7 linked regions of the Homo sapiens genome follow. The protein of the gene in region 1 interacts with the protein of each later gene in a pairwise test. Each region holds a gene or a part of one and is shown in the gene's direction. Other genes may lie near its edges. The genes, in order: BANP, CDX4, SH3RF2, STOX1, TOX4, PSMD9 and CRX.

The links.
Region 2: the proteins of BANP (region 1) and CDX4 interact in binary tests that used the Homo sapiens proteins (3 or more experiments, as listed by UniProt).
Region 3: the proteins of BANP (region 1) and SH3RF2 interact in binary tests that used the Homo sapiens proteins (3 or more experiments, as listed by UniProt).
Region 4: the proteins of BANP (region 1) and STOX1 interact in binary tests that used the Homo sapiens proteins (3 or more experiments, as listed by UniProt).
Region 5: the proteins of BANP (region 1) and TOX4 interact in binary tests that used the Homo sapiens proteins (3 or more experiments, as listed by UniProt).
Region 6: the proteins of BANP (region 1) and PSMD9 interact in binary tests that used the Homo sapiens proteins (3 or more experiments, as listed by UniProt).
Region 7: the proteins of BANP (region 1) and CRX interact in binary tests that used the Homo sapiens proteins (3 or more experiments, as listed by UniProt).

The regions. Positions count from the first base shown.
Region 1 is NC_000016.10:87,954,222-87,958,245, forward strand, and holds part of BANP (protein BANP), read left to right. Parts: intron 1-4,024. UniProt on the Homo sapiens protein: Controls V(D)J recombination during T-cell development by repressing T-cell receptor (TCR) beta enhancer function. Binds to scaffold/matrix attachment region beta (S/MARbeta), an ATC-rich DNA sequence located upstream of the TCR beta enhancer.
Region 2 is NC_000023.11:73,445,752-73,450,203, forward strand, and holds the start of CDX4 (homeobox protein CDX-4), read left to right. Parts: upstream 1-1,301; 5' UTR 1,302-1,502; coding exon 1,503-2,004; intron 2,005-4,452.
Region 3 is NC_000005.10:145,939,329-145,943,352, forward strand, and holds part of SH3RF2 (E3 ubiquitin-protein ligase SH3RF2), read left to right. Parts: intron 1-4,024. UniProt on the Homo sapiens protein: Has E3 ubiquitin-protein ligase activity. Acts as an anti-apoptotic regulator of the JNK pathway by ubiquitinating and promoting the degradation of SH3RF1, a scaffold protein that is required for pro-apoptotic JNK activation.
Region 4 is NC_000010.11:68,826,085-68,830,330, forward strand, and holds the start of STOX1 (storkhead-box protein 1), read left to right. Parts: upstream 1-1,446; 5' UTR 1,447-1,539; coding exon 1,540-1,849; intron 1,850-1,892; exon of another isoform or gene 1,893-2,185; intron 2,186-4,246.
Region 5 is NC_000014.9:21,486,985-21,491,008, forward strand, and holds part of TOX4 (TOX high mobility group box family member 4), read left to right. Parts: intron 1-466; coding exon 467-709; intron 710-1,605; coding exon 1,606-1,866; intron 1,867-2,188; coding exon 2,189-2,419; intron 2,420-4,024. UniProt on the Homo sapiens protein: Transcription factor that modulates cell fate reprogramming from the somatic state to the pluripotent and neuronal fate. In liver, controls the expression of hormone-regulated gluconeogenic genes such as G6PC1 and PCK1.
Region 6 is NC_000012.12:121,898,455-121,902,478, forward strand, and holds part of PSMD9 (26S proteasome non-ATPase regulatory subunit 9), read left to right. Parts: intron 1-1,179; coding exon 1,180-1,391; intron 1,392-4,024. UniProt on the Homo sapiens protein: Acts as a chaperone during the assembly of the 26S proteasome, specifically of the base subcomplex of the PA700/19S regulatory complex (RC).
Region 7 is NC_000019.10:47,841,381-47,844,348, forward strand, and holds the end of CRX (cone-rod homeobox protein), read left to right. Parts: 3' UTR 1-1,944; downstream 1,945-2,968. UniProt on the Homo sapiens protein: Transcription factor that binds and transactivates the sequence 5'-TAATC[CA]-3' which is found upstream of several photoreceptor-specific genes, including the opsin genes.

The DNA.
Region 1 (4,024 bases):
ATGTGTTCACAATCAAATTTTTAATGTCCAAGCATGTATTTGTCTTGTTTCTTTTTCATAGTAGCTTATTGTTACACAAGTGCCTCATCTCCATGACTCTAAGGAAACTAATAAGGATTCTTCCCAGCTCTCCTTTGTTCTGATTTCTTGTTTCCACTAATGTCACTTAAAAAAAGTGTTGGCTTCTTCCTCTTTATGGCAAGTCCTCCATACTGATGTTTACTGTTGTCTGAGGCAGGAGGAAGCTGGCGGAGAGCCCCGGGTCTGTGGGGTGCTTTTGAAAGAGTCCAGTTTCCCCTCGGGTGATTGGGAGCCTGTCACCGTGGGACCTGGAGCACCAACTTGCAGATATTTTCTCTGGGCTGTTCCGCTTCTTTAGGAAGGCCCCTTTGCTGGCCGTGGGGGAGTTAGCTCTCCTGTGCGGGACCGACTTGGCAGGTGCGGGTTTGGCCTGCCCGCAGGGCTCTGCGAGGCTTGGAGCCCCACGCCTGTGCCCCCGGTGCTTTCCCTCTGCCCTGATCGGGTCCTCTGCATCTGTCAGGAGTGTGTTCTTTCTTGTGGGTTGATAACACCCTATTAAAGATGATGTTAATGGAGTGAGAGGAGGTCACCCGTACGGCCAGTCACTCCCCTTGAGCAGGAATTTGCAAGCCTGTTCTATTCACTCCACCTTCCTGCTTCCTTGTGGCCTTGGTAATTGCCCACAGTCAACGGGGTGAGGTGCCAAGCCGCCGTTCCACAGCCGCCTCTGAATTGCAGCGTGGGCTGGTGGCTCTGGCCCTGTGGCCTTGGAGGGCTGCCAGCGTACCTGGGCAAGGCCCGGCAGACCCGTGTGGTAGCAAAGACCCTGACTTTGGCTCCTCGCTGGGTCAGTGTGCCAAGCGGGCCGTCTGCCCTGCTGGGGTCCAGGAGGGCCTGCAGTGAAGCAGTGGTGAGCGTACTGGGAGCATGATCTTTCTGCATGGTGGCTGACTGTCACTGGGAGGTTGTGTGTAGTGCGGTGGGCTCTGTCTGCCAGAGCCTTGCCAGCCGAGCGTCCAGGGGCCAGCTGTGTCCATCAGCATCACTTGGGTATTTGTGAGAAACGCACACTTTCAGGCCCTACCCAGGTTCTCGTGCAGAATCAGACTGCAGCTTGGTCAGCTTTTAATTTTCAGATAGTTTTTGACTTTACAGAAAAGATGCAAAAAATATTTCACTGAGCTTCCCTGTTGTCTTCATCTGCTTCCCCTGATGTTGACGTCTTATGTAACCAGGCATCCATATAAACGCCAGAAAGTTCACAGCATTATTGCGTAAATGACAGACCTTATTCGAACTTCGGTTTTGCACCAGTGTCCTCTTGCTGTTTCGGGATCCCCTCCGGGACCCCACACTGGTGCGTGTGGCCGCCCTGTCTCCTTAATGTCCTTCTGTCTGTGATATTTACATAGTCACAAAGTATCTCCCCCAAGATACACGTCACAAAGGGAAAAATAAAACTGTAGCCTCTCGGTGGAAAAACCCAGCAGATACTGTGTGAAGCAAGTGATCGGGGTAACACCATCAGTCATAAGACGTTGACACCAAGGACCCAGTGAGACACATCACTTCTCTGGCAGTGTTGCCAGAAATGCAGTCTCATCATGAGAAAATGCTGCACCCAAACTGAGGGATGCTCACCACAGTCCTGGCCAGTGCGTCTCAAGTGTCCAGGTCTTGAAAGACAGGGAGGCTCAGAATTTCCTGCAGGCAGGTGGCCAGGTGATGTGTGTGCACCCTGGTCCACACGGAAGGCCTTCCCACAACCTTGAGGGAGGTGAGGGAGTAGGGGTTTGGGGGCTCCAGGCACAGGTGCTGGGCAGTGGGCCTCAGTGGTCTTGCAGCTCCCCCGTCAGGATTGTTAGCCTTTGGGTTCCTCGTCTGCAGTGATACTGTACAAATCCCAAAAACTCCAGTTACACGATTAAGTGATTGACATGACATGGAGTCGCAAGGCTGACTTGAAAATGACTGTAACTCACAGCACCAGTTTAGCCACTGCAATCTAGAGAAACTAAACATTTCCTCATTTTGAAGGAAAGACTTCTTGGGGAAAGTCAATTTGAGGGTTTGAATGAGAATGAGATGAAAGCTTTAGAAGGTCCTCCCTGTGCCTGAGGTAGATAAACATCTGTATTTTCTCTTCACACGGGTGACGGTGGTGAAAGCATGACATCATCTGACTTGGTCAGCAGAAGTGCTCTGAACCATCCGGAACTTTGGGGGCCTGGGGGCCGTGGGGAGGAGTTTCAGGAAGTTGAAAACAGTATTGGGTGGAATCACACACTTGCAATTTGCTCTGAAAAAGCTACACTTGTTTTGTTCTCAGCTGCACCTGGGGCCCTTCAGCCCCTGCAGGAGAAGAATGGGGCGAGTGATTGGTACGTGGCCTTCCCAGCCTGCAGAGCCGCCTGCTTTGGTTGTAATCATAGGCAAGCTCAGCCTGCTTTGGTTGTAGTCGTAGACAAGCTCAGGTTTCCGCCTCTGCACGTCCCGGTGGGCTCGCCTGGGACTCCCTTTGTCTGTTGTACAAGACTCCACTCTGGCCCCCCCTTTGGAAGAGACGATGTCTCCATCCTCAGGAAGTAGAGAAACACTCTCCGCCACCCTCCATCCTGACCCCCGTGCAGAGGATGAAGTGCTGTCCCAGAAGCCCCCTCTCAGGGGTGCCGTAAGTCTCAGAGAGAGGAGCACCCCGGGGCCTCCGTGGCAGAATCCTGTGAGTGTCTTTGGTTAAAATGTGCAGGAAGTGTTAACTCCTAAGCTGCCAGCAGATGGTGTGCCGAGATACTGTGAAGTCACATGAACTTGATTCCTGTTGGAAAGAACCACTCTGCAATCCTTCGCGTCTACACTTCGTCAAGAACCGTCCAATTTGATTAAACATTCTGGATCGTCAGCGTTCACGGTGGAGCAGACTCCACGACTCGCTGCTCCCATGGGAGGTGTCTCTCTGGGGAAGGGGTCAGTGGTGGTGGAGGATGGCGCGGTGCTCCATTCGGAACCCACAGGTCGCCAGCTTACAGCGTGGGAGCTGTGGAAGGACACATGGAGCAGAGGCGGCTGAGGAGGTGAAAGGCTGAGAGGAGGCTGCAGTGAAACACCTGAGGAAGGCTGGGCAGAATGGATCGGGGGTGTGTATTGGCTGCAGTCACCTCCCCTCTGCTCGTCTGTGTCCACATTCTGTCGTGGTTGAGACCGGATCCTGTGTGGACCGGGTGGGCTGGTGTGGAGTCCTGTCAGGAGACCTGGGGCGGTTTTGAGGCAAGCTCACGGAGGCCTGCCGCAGGGCCCTGCGCTGACAAACCTTTCGCTAGTGACCAGTTACCTTCTGTGTCTGAGAGAAGGCCGTTGTGGCCTGTAGTGATTTTCCTTTTCCCTTGAGATGAAAAGTCATCAAATATCTGGAAGCAAAGCTTAATCTTTCTGAAAGTAGAAACGCGTTTGGATGGAGCCGGGAGGGAGAACTGGGTGCGCGCTTGGCATTTCCTTGCCGGTGTGAATGCGCTTCCCGTAAATATGGCAGAACGCCTTCACCTTTCACCAGATGACGCGGGGGGAATTGGGCCACGGTCCCTGCTGTCATCATGGCATGCTGCAAGCTCTGTGGGCGCTGGTGGCCAGGATGCGGACAACCCCTGCCGCTACGTGTCCTCAAGTGAGCTCAGCTCTTGTGTCGGTGGGAGCTGGCGGTGGGTCCCTGAGCAGAGTGCTGCCGCTGCCAGTCTGCGTTTTCTGCCGAAATGCGTCCCTGAGATTGAGAAAGTTCACACCCTAAGTGTTTTTAGAAGGCTGGGTGCCCTGTTTCCCAGCCAACAGTTGTGACTGTCAGTGGGCAAACACAGTTTGCAATAATTGGCCTGTTGTCTTACAATTTCTGGCTCTCCTCTTTGTGGTGTAGGTCATGTTAGGTGGTGGTCCTTGGTCGTTTGTGCCACGTTCCCTCATGTTCTTGAACTCTGAGTCCCTAGAAACTGACATTGGTCTTATTTTGAGTGCATTA
Region 2 (4,452 bases), on another chromosome or scaffold:
AGGCTTTATCTGCTCACCACTGATGTCTCCATACATAGAACAGCACTAAGTACTCAATAAATATTTGCTGAGTGAATACAGTGGTCCCATACTGTGTGCCAAGCACTAAGTTAAGCAGTTTGCTTGCATTATCTGAGGAAATCCTGCTTGTAAGGTAGATACCATTAGGTTCTCTATTTTTAAAAGGGAAAACCCGTGAAACTCAGAGAGGTTAAGTGACTTTCCCAAAGCCATAGATGGATTAGCTAAAAGGGGGTGGGGGTGCCAGGTTATGTTGGATTTTGTGTAGGAGCACATTTCCTGAGTAGGAAGCAGCCTGGAGTAAAGGCTGTGGTAGGTCTTGGGGGTGCTGGGTGGAGAGGAGGAACACAAGAGGAGACCTGGTTTCTTGAGGCAAGATACTGATTTCATTGGCATCTACTAGCAAGTCTATGTCTTTTTCAACAATTGGAGTTTTACAAAGAAAACTTTTTTAGTTTGCTGCAGCTGCCATGGATTTGAGACTGCAAGAGTTCTGGCCCCTTGAGGCACTGGATTTCAGACAGAAGCCATACCTGGCAGAAGGAGACACCTGAGAGTAGTGGATTGACATGAAAATAGGAAAGTTTATTATCCACATGGTTCTCTCTCTCTCCTACCATTTTGCATAACCTACGTTACTCATCTTTCTTTAATTTGTGCATATTTGTAAACAACGTTCTATTAATTCAGCCTGCCATCCACTACAGTGTAATCTTAGGAAGGCAGAGCAAGAATTTTTGTCTTTTATTCACTGCTGTATCCCCATGCCTACACAGTACCTGGCACACAGTAGACGCTCAACAGAGAGTTGTGAAATGAATCTTTGCCCTTGGAAACAAAGGCGTCCTCTTGATGGAGGGAGTAAGGAGAGTAAGGGAAAGCTCTTTTCATTGGCATCCTGGGCCAGTGCCATGCAGTAAACCCCTGCGAGGGAATTGGGCAGAAGGAGACTGCAGATGCAGGTTGGACGCGGGAAGATCGGTGAAAGGGAGGAGGCCGCGGTGTAAGGACTGAATCCTAGAGAGCGGAACTTTGCCCGGTTTCTGCAGGTCTCTATCTGACTTTGAGGGGAGCTGGTCAGAAATCCCTGGAGGAGTTCCTGTCCCCAAAAGCACAATACTGACGCTATGGGGACCAGATGGACAGAATCAAGAAAGATGAGACAGAAAGGCCTGGGAGCTTGGGGAGTGGGTGAACAAGTTCCTGTGAAAGTGAAATGGCCCTTCATTTGAATGCAAATGCTATGTAAAAGCCTGAAGCCCCTTGACGTCAGCCCAGCCATTGGTGGCCTATCTATACAGGGCTGCTAGTCACCTGGATACCCTCGTAAGAAACGTGGGATGGAGTAGCCTGAGGGGTGCAAAAGAGCTTGCGGCACAACTACGTACTGATAAGTTTATTCTCTGCTGCTTCTCAAAGTCGAGTTGGGGCCTTACAGGGACTTCAGGATGGCTTAGGGAGCGCCTTCTACCCAAGACACGATGTACGGAAGCTGTCTTTTGGAGAAAGAAGCAGGCATGTACCCGGGCACTCTCATGAGCCCTGGGGGCGACGGCACAGCTGGGACAGGCGGCACAGGGGGCGGTGGGAGTCCGATGCCAGCCTCCAATTTCGCTGCGGCACCGGCTTTCTCGCACTATATGGGGTATCCTCATATGCCCAGCATGGATCCTCACTGGCCGTCTCTGGGAGTCTGGGGCTCACCCTACAGTCCCCCGCGAGAAGACTGGAGCGTGTATCCTGGGCCGTCTAGTACAATGGGCACAGTGCCGGTGAACGACGTGACCTCTAGCCCCGCCGCTTTCTGCTCGACCGACTACAGCAACTTGGGCCCTGTGGGCGGTGGAACTAGCGGCAGCAGCCTACCAGGCCAGGCTGGCGGGTCGCTTGTCCCGACGGACGCAGGCGCCGCCAAGGCCAGTTCCCCCAGCAGGAGCCGCCACAGCCCCTATGCATGGATGCGCAAGACGGTGCAGGTGACGGGTGAGTAATCAATTCCAATGCCCACACACTTTTCCTTCCTTCCCTTCTCCGCTACTTCTCTTGGTCGGCCTGCCCTCGTACTTCTCAGGCCTCTCCCAAGAGGGCTTAGCTGAGGCGACCCCTATATGGCTGGCTGGCCTATTAGGCATCTCCCTCGCATTCGCCTGGGCTCAAAACTCACTCACTGAGTGCAGCGATTGGGACTAAACCTACCCTAGAGGTGATTTTCGCCTTTCGCTGCTCCATGAAGAAAGCGAGTGAGTGGACAATGGGTATGTTAAGCCACAAGGATCAGGATGCAACCCTGTAGTTGCCCACATGGGAAAAGAGATGCATGAGAAAGCTCAACGGGTGAATGAAGCGAGAGGGCAGCTGTAGTGTCCCGTTGTTCAGGCACTGCTGCTTGACTGTTCCATTTCCAAACCCTTACCCATCTGAGCGGGCTGTCTCCCCCCTCCCCGCCCCCAAAGCTGGTGATGCTCAATTTAGGTTCACAGTGCTTGGCTGGCAACGGACCCTCCAGTTTAGCCACTAAGTCCCCGACGGCAAAGCAACCTCTTCACCCTGGCCTCTCAGGGAAGCTCCAGCTTCCTTCCTACAAGTTGGCAGAGGCAAATTGGCCTAAAATCCATTGCCATCTTACAACGTCCTTTCTTCTAACCCAAGTGTTGAGGCAGGCGAGAAGGCTACAGCACTGACCTGGTACATAATACGGTACCTAACCCTCACACCCGCCCGACACGCAAACGAATCAGCTCCAGCACTAATAAATGGCTAAAGCCCTCATAACTATCAAAGCAGGCGTCTCTCAGGCGTGGGGGCTGAATGCAGGTCTGCGGCAGCGCGAGAGAAGTCAAAGCGATCGCGATCACAGCCTAACCAGCAAGCCAGTGGGCGACTGCTGGGAGCCAGGGCGAGGGAAGTGGCCGTTCCACTTTAATCTTAACCGGGGCTGGGGGAGGAATGTTTGTTTTCAACTGTTGTTCTTTTATTACATTCTTATTATTCCAACCCTCGCTCCCTGTCATTAGAGAAAATTAGTAAAAATCGACTCTGAGTATTTTCATCCCTCTGGGGAGGAAATGGCATTTCAATAGCATTTGTCCGCAATGATTATGCTCCTGTTCTCAGTTCTGCACTTTGTCTTTCCTCCAAAAAGCAAAGACAGGAGGGTGGGAAGTGACCCATTTTTACCATTAGGAGAACTTTTAGCCAGGAAGAGGAAGTTCTGTGTATTAGAACCTCACTAGAGTAGCGATCCCAAGGTAAAAGTAGAGTTGAAATACTTGGCTTTAAAGCGTTTGCAAGTAAATCTGCATTTTAAAAAAATATGAGTGAGTCTGTCGACTAAGTAGAATAGAAAAAGAGGTTAGGGTGGGGCACTCCCAGAGTTTTTATTACATCTAATCTCGGGGTTGTAATTAACATCCACTCACTAAACCCTAACAATCAGCAAAAGACACAAAAGCTAGAAAAGTAGTTGCTCGCAGTCTAGGATTATGTTTTGAAACACATTAAGAGGAAAGTCACTGGCGTGCTGTTTGCAATAGAGAACAAGAGAGGAAATGGATGAGATAAAAGAAATTATCTCCAGCCTTGAATTTTCTATTTATGAGGAAAAATATGACAGTTTTATCTGCTTAAAGGTCTTCCGTTTACATTTGCTTTTATTAGCCTGAGTCTCTCTCTTGGGCAATTCTAATGCCAGGAAAGGTTTCGAAACGGGCTCCTTAGTCTCTTGCATCTTTGAGCTAAACCCTCAAACCTGACTTTACAATGGCACCGTCACAAGATTTTCTATCCAATTTCTATGAGAAGTTTAAAATGGAATGATATTGGAACCATTTCGATTTTTGGCAGCCTATTCTATAGATGAGGCTTCATTAAATTAAAACTTCGTTTCATTTTAATGTCTTATAAATGAAAATAACCCTTTTGCTGTATTCTTATAGTCTAAGGTGCATATTTAGCAGCAATTTAAGAATATGATGAAAAACTTTGGTTATCTCCCTAGAAAAAATGCACAAAGGCACAGCAGCACACACACAAACACAAGTAATTTGTTACATAATTTTAGGAGATTCATGGATCCATTGAAGCCCTTTCAAGGGACATCAGGTTATAAACCCCACGAAAAAAATTAAGCTGATCACCTCACTAGGCCACCCACTCAGGACCAAAATGCACCCATTTATATGCTTAGTACATAGTGGGTCTTAAATATTTGTTTAATGAATGAATGAGTCAGATCCTCCTAAATTTTCCACTTCACTCTGTAGTACTGTGGGATAACATATGGTTTATGACTGAGAGGAAAAGATGAACTTCAATATGGAAGTAACCCTTGATTAAGGTAGTCAGATGAAAGTTCTTTCCATTACTGAAAAATGTCTTAAATAAATGTAAAAAAGGAAAAAATGCATGTATTAGTGGACAATCAGAAAACAT
Region 3 (4,024 bases), on another chromosome or scaffold:
TGTCCCACATCTCCCTGCTCTGAAGAGGAATAACGTGTGGGAGGGTCTTGCAGGACTGCTTCCTTACTCAGGAGTGAGGAGTGGCTTGTGATACGCATTTGGAACAACTTTCCGAAATTTTCCTTCTAAGAGCTACCACTTCCTGGGTTCACTGCATCTTTAAACCACCCATGGCGCATGTGTAAACATTCAACAATGAGGGTGGGAAGAAGCAGGACATTTTTTCACTGTACACCCTTGATTTCTTCACTGTAGGCTTTTTATTGCCATTGTGCTTGTAAGTGACACATTCCAGAAAAGGGTTTGGAACTCTTTTTAAGTCCCTCCACTACCCCTGGTCTAGTCATCAATCAGAATCCACAGGTCTGGAAATGGCGAAGTAGGGGTGGGGAAGCAAATTGTTCTCAAACATGCCTTGTTTGTAGAGAAAAGAGCTCTATCTCTGGGTCAGCAAATCCCCCTTGAATTCCTAAGACCTAGCAACCTCTTCCCTTCCCCACCTTGCAGAAGTCTGACCTGCCTTTCAGCGGAGTATCATCACTTACTCAGGAAACGGTGTCACACTGGGAGGAGGCAGTTCCCTTATCAGCTTGGAATATTTTTGTTGTGGTTTACATCTTTCTCAATGTGACTGTGTTGCAAAGGACAGGTAGCGATGAATGGATCCACAGCTACCAAGTTTTTGAACTATAGAGGATTCTCAGGGCCCTTCTGGCACAGGGAATTGAGGTGAGAGCTGGTTGTACATAAGAGACAGCCATTAAGATACTGGGTCTCTCTGGAATTCTTTTGCAGGGACTTATAACATCAGACTATCGTCTGTGCCCACCCTCCAAGCTGCTCTGGACCAAGTCCTGTGGTGAGGCTGAAACTCAAGGGCTCCTGTGTTCAGGCAGGACCTGGGCTAGAAAGATGCTCTGCAAGAGAGCAGAGCTGGCACCCCCACTTCCCAATTCCTTTATGTCCTAACTATCCTTTCTTGAAGTGACTCCTCTCATTCCTTTTGCCTTCCTCAGTGGGGATATGAACAAACCTATTTCTGGATGTCAATATGGCTGCTGTTCTGCAACGTGCCTCTGCTCCCAAAAATATTACCTATCTTTTTTGCAACCATGAAAGCAACCATGCATCCCACAGTTAAGAGAACTGAGGGTTGTCTGGATGCCACAGTCTGTTTAGAGAGTCAGAGGAATGGACTTACATCCTCGGTCAAATCCTCCTGAGTTCCTTGCCCTCTCTGCCACAGTTCAGCCAATCTAGTCAAAAGCTACTTGCTACCCACCTTCCTCCAGGATAGTGTGAAAATTATCTTTGCAACATACTTTTACTGCCTTAGAAAACATCTGCTATGTAAATGCAAAGCATCATCATTAAGATTCATTTAGACATGCTGTATGACTTTGGGCAAGCCACTTATGTTTGCTGGGTCTCAATTTAAAATTCTGTAAAATGGGAAGATGTCATGTATAAAAACAGACAGCTACTGTGAGGTTTAACTAATTAGTATCTCCAAAACACTTTGAGAGCCTTAGATGAAAGACATTTGGAAGATCATTATCACAGTGAACATTATTATTGACTGTTTATTGTGCCCTGCCACACATGAGGCATGCTACAAAATGTAGAAGGAGTTACAGCCCTTGCAGGAGAGTGTAATAGGTATTATTATTGAACTTGATTCTATGATGAGCTCAGGCCAGGATAATACTAAGTATAAAGTACTCCACTCAGAGAGCATAAATAACCTGTTGTCACAGGGCACCATTTTGTAAAACACCTCTTTCAAAGGACTTGCCGATAACCTGGCACCCTGAAAAAGTTCGTTTAACTTTCTGTCCATGAGCTTTTGAAGCCCAAAGTCTGTTCTGCTCACCTAGACTCATCTAAAAAACAAGCTCATCAAGCTCTTTTTGTTGGCTCAAAGAGGCCTGATGCTTCCTGTGCCAACCAGTGTTCTAGGGTGGAACCAATAGTCACACCTCATGGTGCCAGCCCATAGAGAGAAAAAAATTGCCTATTGTGCCTACATGTCTAAAACCCTCCCTAGATGATTGTGTAAAAAGAAAACTTGAGAAACAGCTGTAGGTTTCTGCAGTGTGCATTTATTTCAAACCAACAGGCAAGATCACCAGACTCCTCCAGGAAGAGGTCCTGGTGGTGCAAATTCCACTGGTTCTTCTTATTCCTTCCCTAATACAGTTAAAGCAAAGGAACTTGGCAAGCCTTCAAAAGGATTGTAGGTTCCTGAATAGCTGATCTCTCTTCTTCCTCATTCTGCTACACTTTAGTAATATTTCTGATTTAGGATAGGTGGTAAAGCAGAGAAGTTATGAATCTGTGGACTTGGGTTTGAGAAATACCCAAATTCAAATCCTGACTCTGCCCCTCAACAGTTCTGCACTTTGGGTGAGTCACTTAAACCTCAGGTCCTCCAATTCCCCATCTGTAAATTGGAGATAATGGTAGTACCTACCTCAGAGGGTTGTTGTGAGAAATAAGTGAGATGATTCATGTCACTTAGCTCTTAGCACAGAGACTGGCTCATATTAAGTGCTCAGTAAATGTTAGCTGTGGTTGTTGTTGAAGTGACTCAATACTTTCTACTCTAAATTACACACACCCTTTCAGCCCCTTATTAAGCAAGTGCCATCCAGAGACGGTCCTTGGTACCCTGATTTTTGCATTGTTTTGTTTGCCTCCACATGATCCGTGGCCATGATTCAGATGTGTGATTCTTCCCAGCATGTGCTGGCTTCGCAGCTCACTTCCAGAACCCTTAAGGCACTATGATCCATTCTAGGAGAAAACTCCCTAACTAACTTCACTTTCCCCAAACAGCACCTTCAAAGGAAAACCATACACAGGGCAAGAACCTGGTCTACTTCCTCCGCATCATCAATTCTTTATTAACATTTTTATCTTTCGTTTTTTCCTGCTTCTCACTCTATTCCCCAACACAAATATTGCCATGGGTTCTGTAGGGATGGACTTTCTCCCTACCTTGCTAGCATCATGCCAGTCACACACGTTTCTGTCTTACTTGCCCCTTATCAGCAAGAACACACCTGCCACCTCCAGCACACAGACCAGGTGGCTTTGTCCTAGAAACTTTTCAGCTGGTGTTGCAAGCAACTGATGGGGAAAAAAAATGAGGTCAGAAAACATATCAGGGAATGAGGCTGGGTAGAAACCAGAAGGTGGACTAGCCCCTTTCCTGAGTCTCAGAGGTTGTGTCCTGTAATAGAGCTGTGATACAGACAGTGGGGTTTTTGCTAAATTTGCAAGGGGATTAAAATCATCCCAGGCCCCTGAAAACAGCAGATAGGTGCCATCTGGGACAGCAAGGACCATATGTAGTAGGTGGAGGAAGACATAAAGGTAGGGGCTAAGGTTGAGAAGTCAAGAGACCCAGATGGTTCTCCAGCTTCACACACATTTACAAACATTTTTAATAACCACATGGCCCCACACTGGCACTGCCTTCAATCTCTCTCAGTGTACCTCTTTTCTAGTTAGTCTCCTCTCTTTTATTGCTTACTGTAGCATTTAAGGATTTATGGTGAAGTGGGCTGTATTTGTGCCAGGATTCAATTGTTTGTTAGCTGTGTGGCCTTAGGCAAGTCACTTAACCTCTCTGATCCTCAGTTTCTAGACTTATATAATAGGAATAATAAAGGCATACTTATATCATACAGCTATTGTGAGATTAAAATGATTAAAATGAGATTAAAATGATATACATATATATAATATATATAAAGAGCTTAGCACAAGTGCCTGGCATATAACAGAAGCTAATAAATGTTAGCAACAGTAAATAACAAAAGAGTAACAATGGAAGAGAAAGTCAGCTGGCACTAGAGTTCTTTGCACACACACAGAAACATGCAGGGATCTCCATTAAAAAAAAAAAAGGAACCAAAGAGTACTGCAAAAGGAAAGGGAGTTCTCAAAAAGACAAAACTGTAGTGATGAGAAATAGGTCAGTGGTAGCCAGGGGTTATGGACTGGGGGAGGATGGGAC
Region 4 (4,246 bases), on another chromosome or scaffold:
CCGCCCACCTCGGCCTCCCAAAGTGCTGGGATTACAGGCATGAGCCACCGCGCCTGGCCCCTTCCTCTTCTTTTAACATGTTGTATTTTCAAATGGGTTTTTTTCTCAAGGAGCCCTCCCGCTGGGCCTCAGTCTGGGTCCTCAGTCTGAATCGGCCTTCACTGCTTTGAGGCACAGGTCACATTCTACCGCCACGCATCACAAGCTCTCCCTTTGCCTCTGGGGCAGGACGGTGTCCGTCTTTTCAGAATGTCCACATCTAACCCAGGGCAGAATCCTACGATATCACCACAGCGCCACACCAATCAGGGTGGCACCTCTCCACTCTGCTTTCCTCAGCACTCAAGAGTATGGGATATCCCCGGGGTAGGACCAGATCCTACAACTTCAGAAAGTCATGGATGAGGCCGGCCGGGCGCCGTGGCTCACGCCTGTAATCCCAGAACTTTGGGAGGCGGAGGCGGGCGGATCACGAGGTCAGGAGATCGAGACCATCCTGGCTAACACCATGAAACCCCGTCTCTACTAAAAATACAAAAAATTAGCCGGGCGTGGTGGCGGGCACCTGTAGTCCCAGCTGCTCGGGAGGCTGAGGCAGGAGAATGACGTGAACCAGGTAAGCGGACCGTGCAGTGAGCCGAGATCGCGCCACTGCACTCCAGCCTGGGCGACAGAGTGAGACTCCGCCTCAAAAAAAAAAAAAAAGAAAGTCATGGATGAAAGGGTCCTTAGTTTATTATCCTGTGAAATAGTAGCTGGGACATTTCTGAGGCCCAGAGAAGGGAAATAACTTGAATGAACAGGTTGGGAGCAGGCCAGGCGATGTGGCGGGCACCTGTAGTCCCAACTCGGGAGGCTGAGATCAGAGGATCGCTTGAGCCCAGAACTCAGTGAATAGCCACTGCACTCCAGCCTGGGCAACACAGCGAGACCTCGACTCAAAAAACAAAAATAGAAACAAACAACTAGCTTAGGCGCAGAACTGAGACTCAAACCTAGGTTTCCTGCTCAACCCCCACACCTCCCAGGCCCCCGCTGACACCCTCAGGCTGTTCCTCGTGGTTGCTAACTTGGAACGGCCCCAAAGCCAGGTCGAAGGCGAGTCTCCCCGCCCTGGGGACTCCTGGCGCTGCAGTTCGCACGGCGGATGGACGCAGTCAGGTTCTCCAGGGAGCTGCGAGGAGCCCCAGGACTTGGAAAAACCCCAGAGCGCGCCCCTGGGGGAAGGGGAGCTCGGGACCTCGAGGCGGCTGGAAGTCGAGGGCATCGCCAGGGGGCCGAGTTGGGCCCGGGTGTGGAGAACGAAGCCGAACGCTGGGCTCTGGATTCTCCTCCAGAGCGCTCCGCCGGCCTAAGCACGGCCGCCCCACCCCCGGCCCGCCAGGCGCAGTCGGCCCCGCCCCCTGGAGCTCCGTTCCCCCGGCAGCCAGCGCCGCGGACCCGCGCGCAGTCGGCCGATCCTCCCGCCGAGCGAGCGGCGTCGTAGCCGCCGCGCTCGCCGAGGCCCTGCGTTGCGGGCTCCCGGCCGCCGGCGAAAGCATGGCCCGGCCCGTGCAGCTGGCGCCGGGCTCGCTGGCGCTAGTGCTGTGCCGGCTGGAGGCGCAGAAGGCGGCGGGGGCCGCGGAGGAGCCTGGTGGGCGCGCGGTGTTCCGCGCTTTCCGTCGCGCCAACGCGCGCTGCTTCTGGAACGCGCGGCTGGCGCGCGCCGCCTCGCGGCTGGCCTTCCAGGGCTGGCTGCGGCGGGGGGTGCTGCTGGTGCGCGCGCCCCCCGCCTGCCTGCAGGTGCTGCGCGATGCCTGGCGGCGCCGGGCCCTGCGGCCGCCGCGCGGCTTCCGCATCAGGGCGGTGGGTGAGTGCGGGACCCGGAGGGGAGGGGCGTCCCGGCCCGTGCAGCTGGCGCCGGGCTCGCTGGCGCTAGTGCTGTGCCGGCTGGAGGCGCAGAAGGCGGCGGGGGCCGCGGAGGAGCCTGGTGGGCGCGCGGTGTTCCGCGCTTTCCGTCGCGCCAACGCGCGCTGCTTCTGGAACGCGCGGCTGGCGCGCGCCGCCTCGCGGCTGGCCTTCCAGGGCTGGCTGCGGCGGGGGGTGCTGCTGGTGCGCGCGCCCCCCGCCTGCCTGCAGGTGCTGCGCGATGCCTGGCGGCGCCGGGCCCTGCGGCCGCCGCGCGGCTTCCGCATCAGGGCGGTGGGTGAGTGCGGGACCCGGAGGGGAGGGGCGTCCCGCGCCAGCTGTGAGCGCGGAGCTCCGCGCTGCAGGGGCGAGCGCGGCCCCGTCTTCTGCCACAGAGGCTAGGCGCTGCTCTGAGGGCCCGGGGGCTGCGGTTGGGCGGCCGGTCCGGGGGGCCAAGACGCCCCGGAGACGTTCCCTCCCGCTAGGACACTGCAGCTATAGTCCCCAAGGTGTGCCTGGCCGCTGCTAGTACTGGCTCCGGGCTGAGTCCGTTCCTCAACTCTTAAAGCCCGTGGAGTGCACAGAAGGAACTTTCTGCTTAGAAAAGTGATGCTCTGGATAGAGAGGCTTTGGGCTAGGGGCCACTGTCTAGGCTCCACCGGGGCGGTTAGGAAGGGTACCCCAGGGGAATGGCCAGAGTTTACCATATCTGGCAGCTTTATTATTATTATTTTTTGAACTACAGATCTGCAGCGAACGGCATTCTGGTTTTCATGTTCTGCAGTGTGGTGGTCTTGGGTCGGGACCTAGCAGCTTTGGGGTCGTTAACTTCTTGGGGAAAACAAGTAGCGTCTCATCCCTTTAGCTGAATAGACAGGATTCCACCTTCCCAGTCTTTTCAAACTTAACTGTTTGTTAGACAACAGCAGCTTTTTGCCTTTTTTCATAAAATAGCTTCTCATTTGAGAAACTAAACCACCGCACCCGTGAGTGGTCTCTGACTCTGGGCACTAAACCCAGGCAGGTGTGTCAGCTCCCTGTAACAACCTTGTTCTTGTCTGCATTTATGTGAGGCTGCAAGGGCCATTTGATGGTGTGTTGACAAGTCACCAGTTGTTCCGCGCTTAATTTTCATTCTTACCAAGGAACCCCTCTGTATTAGTCCATAAATCATCCTCTTCCATCCGAGGAGAAGGAGTCGCAAATAAAAAACATTTGTTTGGCCAGGCGCGGTGGCGCTCGCCTGTAATCCCAGCACTTTGAGAGGCCGAGGCAAGTGGATCACCTGAGTTCAGGAGTTAGAGACCAGCCTGGCTAACATGCTGAAACCCCTCAGGAGTTCAAGACCAGTCTGGCTAATACGGTGAAACCCCGCTTCTACTAAAAATACAAAAATTAGCCGGGGCGTGGTGGCAGGTTCCTGTAATCCCAGATACTTGGGAGGCTGAGGCAGGAGAATCGCTTGAATCCAGGAGGTGGTGGTTGCAGTGAGCCGACATCAGGCCATTGCACTCCAGCCTGGGTGACAAGAGCGAAACTCCGTCTCAAAAGGAAAAAGAAGAAGAAAGAAAAGAAAAAAAGCACTTATTTAATTTCCAGGGATTTGAAAACAGGGCAGCAAGAAGCAAGCACCTGACCCACCGATAACTGTATCATCCATTCAGAGATGGTATTACCACATCCCAGCAGCCAGTGCTTTAAACCTTCACTTCTCACCTCCATGCTGTCTGTTCCCTCTCCTCCCCACCCCGCCCCCGTTTTTCTTAAGCTCAAAAAAGAGCTCTTTGCAAAACCACATATACACATTTCCTCTCCTTTTACTTGCAGGAGTGAAGAAAATAGGTTTCTGGCTCTGAGAGCAGTGAGCCAAGTAGCCAAGCCAAAATCCTCACGAGCGAAGAGGTCTTTCAGACAGGCTCGATGAAAAACTCTTTTCAGTTCTGCATCCTCAGTTTTTCTGGTTTGAATTAGTGGTTACATTCTCAGGTCCCCCCTTTCAAAGGGTGAGCACAGAGTATATTGCAGAGAGGGAGTGGGATGCAGGGTGGGGGGTCTAGACCTGGGGGCGAAATAAGAGAGGGCTTGTGCTAAGTCACGGGCTGCCACTAATGCCCCAGTGAGCAGTGGTAAATGCTGGTGTCTGTGTTGGTGCTGTTTGCTGCCATCTGAAATATGTATCACACGTCACCTGTTGCTCCCATTCTCTTCTGCCCAGTGGGTAATGCTGCCTCATAGCACAACTCAGGATGCAGTGGACACTATGACCCCATCTGTGGGGTGTGCAACGCAGTGGACTTCCGCCGGCTCATCACCCTTGACTTGGGTCTCCTGGCAGGAATGATTTTGAGGTTTTCAAATT
Region 5 (4,024 bases), on another chromosome or scaffold:
ACCTAAAACAACAAAGTATAATTGGCTGGCTGACAGCGAATTTCTGTGACCTAACAGTTTAGATGTAATAATTGTGAAATAACTGCTCTATTAGAATCTTTAGAGAGAGATTTCAAGAATCATAGTAAACAGGTTATAAAGGCTATGTCCTAAGTAATGGTACTGAAAGAATTTTTCATTAGAACCATAGGCATAATTTAAGACAAAAGAGACGGTAATGGTAGAAAAGAGATAAAAGAATTGAAAATTGTGACTGATGTTAGCAGCCTTGAATGTACCAAATGACCAAGGGTATCAGAAGAGAGATTGGTAAAAATAATAGGTTCTAAGAAATTGATTATAAAATAGGATCCTAAGCAGAAAAAATGCATCCTGAGAATCTCTAGTACCCCATTATGTTCTTCACTTAGTAGTATGCCATTTCTCCTCTTTTCACTAATTCTTTTCCCCCTTTTTTCCCCTACAGACATTCCATACACCAAGCTTGGGTGATGAGGAATTTGAAATCCCACCTATCTCCTTGGATTCTGATCCCTCATTGGCTGTCTCAGATGTGGTTGGCCACTTTGATGACCTGGCAGACCCTTCCTCTTCACAGGATGGCAGTTTTTCAGCCCAGTATGGGGTCCAGACATTGGACATGCCTGTGGGCATGACCCATGGCTTGATGGAGCAGGGCGGGGGGCTCCTGAGTGGGGGCTTGACCATGGTAAGGGGCAAGACATTGTCAGGCTTACCCCAGCTAATGGGCATGGCATTAGGGGAGACAAAGTTACTCTATTCCCTGCTACACTTGGGTATTACTTGTTTCTCTTCTTGTGGCTAAAGGCTCACCAACAAAGACTTAATTTCACCTGAATAAATGAAATTTACCATGTAGGTAGATTTTACTTGAAAAATAATTTAAAATTGTACAATGTCTGGTTTGAAAATTATTTATTGTGGTTTTTGGGAAAAAGTGTTTTCTGCTTTTATTATGGCCTTCACATCCTAGGATTCAAATTTGAATGTGATAGCTGGCACACGGAGGGATTTATTCAAAAATGGCCTGAATCACGTTGAGCAGCCAGCAGAACAGAGCTTAAAAAAAAAAAAAAAGTCTGAGCCAAATATAGTATTGTGGATTAGTATGTAATATAAATCAGTATATTGGGCTTCCAGCACATCGAACCAGTAAGCACATCTTCATACTCTATATTTGATGCCAGACTTTAATATTGGCCTTATTTATGCTGATTGCCTATGTATTACAATTTTAAAAGCTATTATTTTGGGAGAGTACAGATAGGAAGTTTTTCTTTACTCAATGTGTTGTCACTACCTATATATTACTGAATAAGTTGATAGCTCTTTGACTTGTCCAACAGTGCGACTTCTCTGATTATTTTTAGTTCTTCTTTTGAGTGCAAAGAAGTAAATTCATTAATTTCTGTACTTTTTTAAAAAGCTTATTTTTTTATTTTCATTTTTGAAGACTATTTTATGTTTTGTATTTTAAATGATACAATTTGGGTAGGCAGGGAATTTATAAGCTGTCTTAAATTTAGGGGGGAAAAGTGGTTTTTTTTATATTTAGTGTTTAATTAGTCCTTCTGCTTCTCTCAGGACTTGGACCACTCTATAGGAACTCAGTATAGTGCCAACCCACCTGTTACAATTGATGTACCAATGACAGACATGACATCTGGCTTGATGGGGCATAGCCAGTTGACCACCATTGATCAGTCAGAACTGAGTTCCCAGCTGGGTTTGAGCCTAGGGGGTGGCACCATCCTGCCACCTGCCCAGTCACCTGAAGATCGTCTTTCAACCACCCCTTCACCTACTAGTTCACTTCACGAGGATGGTGTTGAGGATTTCCGGAGGGTGAGGCATTCCCTGTCAAAATCAATTCTGCTGTGATAGTCTGGGATAAAATTTTTGGGATACAGAGCCTAATCAGTATTCTTTACCCTTGCCGTGCCATCTCCTCTGCTGTTTTCTGGGTATGGGGTTCCACCTCCCAATTTCCAGTTTATAATTCTCCTCTCAATCCCTATTCTTATTGGTTCTCCATATTTGACTAATGTCTTTTAATGCTATTTCTATGATTTTTAGCATTTCTGAAAATTCCATACATGTGGCTAGTTTCCAGACATAATACTTGTCATTGTCCATTGTGTAATTCTCTCTTTTTTCTCTCCTACAGCAACTTCCCAGCCAGAAGACAGTCGTGGTGGAAGCAGGGAAAAAGCAGAAGGCCCCAAAGAAGAGAAAAAAGAAAGATCCTAATGAACCTCAGAAACCAGTTTCAGCATATGCTTTATTCTTTCGTGATACACAGGCTGCCATCAAGGGACAGAATCCTAATGCCACTTTTGGTGAGGTTTCAAAAATTGTGGCCTCCATGTGGGATAGTCTTGGAGAGGAGCAAAAACAGGTGAGCAAATATTGAGGAACTAGTAGTGAATGTTCCAGAAGTTTTTAAAGAGATAAAAATTGAGGTTTTCTTTTTTCTTACATGTCCTTATCTAATATCAGCTGTTTGTTAATGACACTTAAATATCATCCCTTGTCTTCGAAGTTGCAGCCATACACTCACTCCAGAAAACCTATTTAAATTTTTTTTTTTTGAGACAGAGTCTCGCTCTGTCACCCAGGCTGGAGTGCAGTGCCGTGATCTCAGCTCACTGCAAGCTCCGCCTCCTGGGTTCACGCCATTCTCCTGCTTCAGCCTCCCGAGTAGCTGGGACTGCAGGCGCTTCCACCACACTGGGCTAATTTTGTTTTTGTATTTTTAGTAGAGACGGCGTTTCACCATGTCAGCCAGGATGGTCTCGATCTCCTGACCTCGTGATCCACCCGCCTCGGCCTCCCAAAGTGCTGGGATTACAGGCATGAGCCACTGCGCCCGGCCTATTTAAAAATTATTAATAGGCTGAGTGTGGTGGCTCATGCTTTTAATCCCAGCACTTTGGGAGGCCAGGGCAGGAGGATTGCTTGAGCCCATGAGTTCGAGACCATCCTGGGCAACATAGGGAGACCCCCGTCTCACAGAAAATTAGCTGGGTGTGGTGGCATGTGCCTTTGGTCCCAGCTGTGGAGGCTGAGGCGGGAGGATTGCTTGAGTTCAGGATATAAAGGCTGCAGTGAGCCATGTTTGTGTCACTGCACTCCAGCCTGGGTGACAGAGCAAGACCCCGGCTCAAATAAATAAATAATAATTGTTATAGGCCGGGCGCGGTGGCTCACGCCTGTTAATCCCAGCACTTTGGGAAGCCGAGGCAGGCGGATTACGAAGTCAGGAGATCAACACCATCCTGGCTGACATTGAAACCCCGACTCTACTAAAAATACAAAAAAATTAGCCGGGTGTGGTGGCATGCCTCAAATCCCAGCTACTCAGGCGGCTGAGGCAGGAGAATTGCTTGAACCCGGGAGGCAGAGGTTGCGGTGAGCCGAGATCATGCCATTGCACTCCAGCCTGGGCAACAAGAGTGAAACTCCATCTCAAAAAATAATAATAATTGTTACAGAAGTACTGCATCTTTACAATAACTCTCAAAAATAGCTACCATTTCCCGCTTTTAAGGTGGAAACTGGAGCCCACTGCCCAGTTAAGGTCATATAACATTTAAGTGGTAAAGTTGAGACACAATCCAGGTTCTTTAACTCTTCCCATGTACTTTCCACTAATAATGTCTCCTATAATTCCTCATGTAGTGTCCTTCTGTTCAATTTTTAGATATTTAACTTTTCTAAGTCTCATTTTTTCCCCCATTTATAAAATTAGGCTATTACTTGATAAGCTGCATGCTGTGGCTAACTCTCAAATCCACTACCAAGTTTGGATTTAGAATTACTTGTTTGTTTGTTTTTGAGATGGAATTTCGCTCCTGTTACCCAGGCTGCAGTGCAGTGGTGCAATCTCAGCTTACTGCAACTTCCACCTCCTGGGTTCAAGTGATTCTCCTGCCTCAGCCTCCCAAGTAGCTGGGATTACCGGCATGTGCCGCCACACCCAGCTAATGTTGTATTTTTAGTA
Region 6 (4,024 bases), on another chromosome or scaffold:
CCTGTAGCAGGGGTGCCCTTTGGCCACCTCCCTGTGGACTCCCTCTCCTGGACTGAATGTCTCCAGGATTACTAGGCTTATGCAGCACTTTTTTTTTTTTTTTTTGAGACGAATTCTTGCTTTGTCGCCAGGCTGGAGGGCAGTGGTGCGATCTCGGCTCACTGCAACCTCCACCTCCTGGGTTCAAGTAATTCTCCTGCTTCAGCCTCCCAAGTAGCTGGGATTACAGGCACCCGCCACCACGCCCAGCTAATTTTTGTTTTTGTTTTGTTTTGTTTTGTTTTTGAGACGGAGTCTTGCTCTGTTGCCCAGGCTAGAGTGCAGTGGCGCGATCTCGGCTCACTGCAATCTCCGCCTCCCTGGTTCACGCCAATCTCCTGCCTCAGCCTCCCGAGTAGCTGGGACTACAGGCGCCTGCCATCATGCCCGGCTAATTTTTGTATTTTTAGTAGAGACGGGGTTTCACCGTGTTAGCCAGGATGGTCTCCATCTCCTGACCTCGTGATCCGGCCACCTTGACTTCCCAAAGTTCTGGGATTACAGGCCTGAGCCACCACGCTCGGCCTAATTTTTGTATTTTTTAGTAGAGACGGGGTTTCACCATGTTGGCAAGGTGGTCGCGATCTCTTGACCTCGTGATCTGCCTGCCTCGGCCTCCCACAGTGCTGGGATTACAGGCGTGAGCCTCTGTGCCCGGCTTATGCAGCATTTTTCCTTCTAGAGGATTTCAGAGAAAAGTGAAATCTTGATTACACCCAGCCTGAGTCATTCATTCACATGATCACAGCGCTGGCCCCTCATACATATGCCTTTGAGTTCATGGCTGTGGATTCAGCTGGTTGTTACCTTCCTTCTGCTCACCTCTCAGGGCTCACCCGAGACAGCACTGCCTTCAGGAAGCCTTCCCTCATATCCTAGACTAGCGAGGGCAGACTTTGCTGCTGGCCAGGCCTCCCTGCAGTCATCAGATGTTATTGTAATTACTTATTCTGGAGCTGCTCCTTGCAGGACTGAATGCTCCATGAGGGAATGTCCTCTGTCTTGGTCAGAGACTCCTTCTCACCTCTAGCTCCACATCTGGCATGTAATAAGCACTTGTTAACTCTTCAGTGAATAAATGTAGGAGTCTTGTGTCCTCCACTGTCTTCCTTGGCCCCTGATGTGTGGTTCTCATCCCAGGCCTGCAGAATGATCACAAGGCAGTGATGAAGCAGGTGGAGGAGGCCCTGCACCAGCTGCACGCTCGCGACAAGGAGAAGCAGGCCCGGGACATGGCTGAGGCCCACAAAGAGGCCATGAGCCGCAAACTGGGTCAGAGTGAGAGCCAGGGCCCTCCACGGGCCTTCGCCAAAGTGAACAGCATCAGCCCCGGCTCCCCAGCCAGCATCGCGGTAATCCAGGGGTTGGCCACTCAAGTCCATGCCCAGGGGACACGGTGGGTCAGGTAGCCTTCGGGGATGTGGAAAGACAGACTAGTTCTCTCCGTGCTGCGGTGCTGAGTTCAGTTACTCATTTAACAAACACTGACTGAGGCCTGTCGTGTATCCAGCCCTGTGCTGGGGGCAGAGTTTTAGAGAGGGGTCAGCCCCGGCTGCCCACTACATTGGTGGGGGAGTGACCTCTTCCCAGTGACAGAAGATGATAAATGTCCCAAGAGAGGGAGAGGATCTCTTCTTGGGGCTCATTTTAGCTGGGCACTGAATGATGAAAATGAGAATGGCATCTTGCCAAATGAGTTATGCATCTTATGTGGTGTCTTAAAAAAAACATTAGGCTGGGCACAGTGGCTCATGCGTGTAATCCCAGCACTTGAGAAGGCTGAGGCGACTTGGAAAGCTGAGATGGGAGGATCACTTGGGCTCAGGAAGTCGAAGTTGCAGTGAGCTGTGACTGTGCCACTGCACTCCAGCCTGGGTGACAGAGTGAGACCTTGTCTTAAAAAAAATTTTTTTTTGACCGGGAGCATTGGCTCACGCCTGTAATCCCAGCATGTTGGGAGGCCGAGGCCAGTGGATCACTTGAGGTCAGGAGTTCGAGACCAACCTGGCCAACATGGCGAAACCCCGTCTCTACTAAAAATACGAAAATCATGCCACTGCACTCCAGCCTGGGCAACAGAGTGAGACTCCGTCTCAAAAAAAAAAAAAAAATTTACCCATTTAAAGTCCGTATACAGTTTAGTGTCTTTTGGTGTATTCACAGAGCCATGCATTACCACAATCAATTTTCTTTCTATTTAAAAAATTTGCAGCCAGGTGCAGTGGCTCACGCCTGTAATCCCAGCACTTTGGGAGGCTTAGGTGGGCGATCACCTTATGTCAGGAGTTCAAGACCAGCCTGGCCAACATGGCGAAACCCCATCTCTACTAAAAATACAAACATTAGCCGGGTGTGGTGACATGTGCCTGTAATCCCAGCTACTCGGGAGGCTGAGGCAGGAGAATCGCCTGAACCCAGGAGGTGGAGGTTGCAGTGAGCGGAGATCGTGCCACTACACTCCAGAGCCTGGGCGACAGAGTGAGACTCTGTCTAAAAAAAAAAAAAAAAAAAAAAGGAGATGGGGTTTCGCTCTGTTGCGTAGGTTGGTCTCCATCTCCTGGGCTCAAGTGATTCTACCACCTTGGCCTCCCAAAATGCTGGGATTATAGGCATGAGCCACCATGCCCAGCCATAATCAATTTCAGAACATTGTCATTGTCTTGTAAAGAAACTCTGTAGTGATTTGCCATCACTTCCCAATCCCCCAGCTCCCCGCACCCAGTTATCTACTTTCTGTCTCTATGTATTTGTCTATTCTGGATATTTCCTATAAGTTGAATCATATAATATGTGACCTTTTATGACTGGCTTCTTTCACTTAGCAAATTTTCAAGTCATCTGTATTGAGCATGGATCAGTGCTTCATTTGTTTACAGACAGGGTCTCACTCTCTCACCCAGACTTCAGTGCCATGGTGCCATCATAGCTCACTGCAACCTCAAACTCGCAGAGTCAAGTGATCCTCCTGTCTCAGCCTCCCAAGCAGCTAGGACTGTAGGCACATGTAACCATGCCTGGTTAATTTTTTATTTCCTTTTTTTTTTAGAGATGGGTTCTCACTATGTTGCCCAGGCTGGTCTTGAACTCCTGGCCTCAAGCGATCCTTCTTCCTCGGCCTCCCAAAGTGCTAGAATTACAGGCATGAGCTGTCATGCCTGGCCCTTCATTCCTTCTTTTTTTTTTTTTTTTTTTTTTTTTTTGAGACGGAGTCTCGCTCTGTCGCCCAGGCTGGAGTGCAGTGGCACGATCTCGGCTCACTGCAAGCTCCGCCTCCCAGGTTCACGCCATTCTCCTGCCTCATCCTCCCGAGTAGCTGGGACTACAGGCGCCTGCCATCACGTCCAGCTAATTTTTATTTTTTGTATTTTTAGTAGAGACAGGGTTTCACTTTGTTAGCCAGGGTGGTCTCGATCTCCTGACCTCGTGATCCGCCCGCCTCAGCCTCCCAAAGTGCTGGGATTACAGGCGTGAGCCACTGTGCCTGGCCCTTCATTCCTTTTTATGGCCAAATAATATTCCACTGCCTGGATATATCATATTTTATTTATCCATTTGTCAGTTAATGGACATTTGAATTGTTACCACTTTTTGGCTATTACGAAGCATGTTGCTGCGAACATTCTTGTACAGTTTTTTTGTGGAGATGTAGTTAAATTTAATTCCACAGCCACTTCTGGGATAGGTCCTAATCTTTACTCATTTCATCCTCGAGGAAAAGCCTTGCAGACCTGAAGTAACTTATGTCAGGACACATAGTTCCTGCCAGGTGGAATGGGGTCCTAAACCCTGGTCAGGACACATAGTTCCTGCCAGGTGGAATGGGGTCCTAAACCCTGGTCAGGACACATAGTTCCTGCCAGGTGGAATGGGGTCCTAAACCCTGGTCCTACCAGTCTTCTTTAATGGTCACAAGTCTGTAAGTTACACAGAAGCTCCCTATCATTCACTACCCCATCTACTGCATCTAACCCAGTGCCAGTTGGCC
Region 7 (2,968 bases), on another chromosome or scaffold:
ATTTTCTAAAGGTGAGACACTGGTGGAACTGGGGTAGCTGCTTGGGACGTACCACCTATAGTTGTGGCTATTTCACAGAGAAGCAGCAGCTAGACAGACTCCCATCTGTAAATAAACAAGAGATAGGAAGAGGGGGAAATAGATTTGGAGGAGGCAGCCCTACATTTCAAACATACATTCCCTTTTTTAGATTTTTTTTTTTTTTTTTTTGGTTTTCAGTTTTGATGGTGGGATTGGAAAATAGAGCTTGGCTTGAGGACATTTTCCTGGGGTGGCACCATTATTTCTTGAAATAGAATCTTACTTATGGTGACACTGGCAAGCACTTGTGAGAACCTGAAGACGGATTGAGGTCATTTGATGCTCAGAAGTTGGGTGCTGGGTCCCTGCCTTCTCAGTCCGAGTTCTCCTTTCATTTTTGGGTGGGGAGGCGGGTTCCAAGAGCCCTTCATTGGTGGAGTTCACAAGGCAAGGTGTAAAAAAAAAAGTAGGGCAGGAAGACAGTGGTGTGCTGGCAGAGGTCTAACAATGGGCTCTCCAAGGAAGAGGAAAAGGTTGGTTGTGGAGTGTTTGTCAGTTTCCGTGGTGTAAATACTCCCACCACGGCTGACTTCAAGCTAGCAACCGGAGGTCACTGAACTAAGAGTTGGGAAGAGATAGGGCACAATATATGCTTACGAGTTGGTACACACCGTCAGCAGCAGCCAGGGTCAGGAGAAAGGCGAGATGTGAAGAGAGGCCGGGAGGTATCAGATGACGTTTCCAGCACTAGACCAGAAGAGGTGCACACAGCCTAGACCCCCTGAGGGGTACACCCTGATCTCTAGAGCCCACAAAGAGGTTTTTATTCAACATAAAACGTGTTCATCTCTCATAGGCCTGAGTCATGCTGGGTTCTGGGACATTAAGCCCAGGAGTGGGCCGGGTGCGGTGGCTCACGCCTGTAATCCCAGCACTTTGGGAGGCCGAGGCGGGTGGATCACCTGAGGTCAGGAGTTCGAGACCAGCCTGGCCAACATGGTGAAACCCTGTCTCTACTAATAATACAAAAATTAGCCGGGCATGGTGGCACGCGCCTGTAATCCCAGCTACTCGGGAGGCTGAGGCAGGAGAATTGCTGGAACCCGGGAGGCGGAGGTTGAAGAGAGCAGAGATTGTGCCACTGTGCTCTAGCCTGGGTCACAAGAGCGAAACTCCGTCTCAATAATAACAACAACAAAAATAACCCAGGAGTGGCTCAAGAGTCCAGTGTGGGATGAAAATATAAACAGAGGAAGACAACATATGTCACTGGGGAGGCTGGGGGAGCTAGACAAAATTCACACGGGAGGGGCAGGGATGAGACAATATTGTGCCCTGGGTCTGTGCAAACGTTGGGACCAGAATCCACTATAAGTTTCATTCTTCGGAGACACGGAAGCTCTGCACTGGAGGCCGGGACTCAGGCGTGGAAGAGAATCTTCTCCTTATTCACCGGGGAGGCTGTGTCTTGTGCAAACAAGTCATAGAAACTTGATGGGAGTTGGGGAGGGACTGAAGGATGCATGCAAGGTTCTGGGAAGGAGTGAGAAGTAGTGAAGGCCAAGGGGCCCCCATCACAGGCCGATGGGGTAAGACTTCGAGAGAGCCTGATCCTGGGGTCTTCTGAGACTCCACCAGGAGCCGGAGAGGGCAGGGAGCCAAATCCAGCTAGGAGGTTACAGATTGCTTTTCCTGGGCTGGGCTCCTGAGTGTTGGTTCTTCCAGCTGTGCACAGGGGATTTCAAACGTTCTACGTCCTAAAGCCAGGAAGAGTGACAAGGCAGGTGGGGACAGAAGGAAGAAGCCAGGAGCCTCCCTGAGAAGGTGTCACCTTATCTGTCCTCCTCTTCCCCACACACTGGCCTCTGGGTCCCCCTTCTCTGTCCACCCACAGAGTGAAACCAATTAAAATGTTGGATCTCATTTAAAGTCTGGGTGATTCTTTAGTTTCCGTGTTTTCTCCAGGAGGGGCAGGTAGAAACAGGAACTACTCTGTTCCTTCTGTCTGTGGGGCCTGGGTCCCTCCATGTGTTTCCTGTCTCATCACCCTCCTTTCCTTGACATCTCTCTAAAGCCAATTTATGAAGGATCAGGGGCTGGGTGCAGTGGCTCACGCATGTAATCCAGTGCTCTGAGAAGCTGAGGAGGGAAGATTGATTAAGGCCAGGAGTTTGAGACCAGCCCAGGCAACATAGCGAGATCTCTGTCTCTACAAAAAATTAAAAAAATCAACCGGGTGTGGTGATGTGTGCCTGTGGTCCCAGCTACTCGGGAGGCTGAGATGAGAGGATCGGTTGAGCCCAGGAGTTTGAGGCTGCAGGGAGCTATGATTGCACCACTGCACTCCAGCCTGGGTGATGCAACAAGAGACCCTGTCTCCAAAAACAAAAAATAAAAAAAAAAAAAAAAGAAGGAGGAGGAGGAACAGGGGTCCCCAGGGCCAGCCCCAGCCCCACCCATCTGTAACCTTCCAATGCCCCTCCCGAAAAAACAGGGGGGTGACGAGAATGCTCCCTGCCTCAGTGGCAGGATGTGAAGCTTAACGCCAGCATTTAGAGCCACGCGCAGCCTCTGGCCCGCCTTCCCTCTCAGCATCCAGCCTTCTGCAGCTTCAGCTCTTCCACCCCTTTGCTTTCCATCTCTTCCCCCGGATGCTTTTCAGTTTCTCAATCTCACCCTTGCTCTGTCATCTCTTCTCCTCTCTCTCTTTCCATTCTTCCTCTTGCCTTTCAGACTCCCAGCTCCTCATTTCATTTGGATGGATTTTCACCTTTTTCTTTCTTTCCTTCCCTCTTGTCTCTTTTTCTTTGCTGCTTACTTTTTTCTGACTTTCTTTCTTTCTTTCTTTTTTTTTTTGAGACAGGGTCTCCCTCTCTCACCCAGGCTCAAGTGCAGCAGCGTGATCTTGAATCCCTCCAGCCTCTGCCTCTTGGGTTCAAGCGATCCT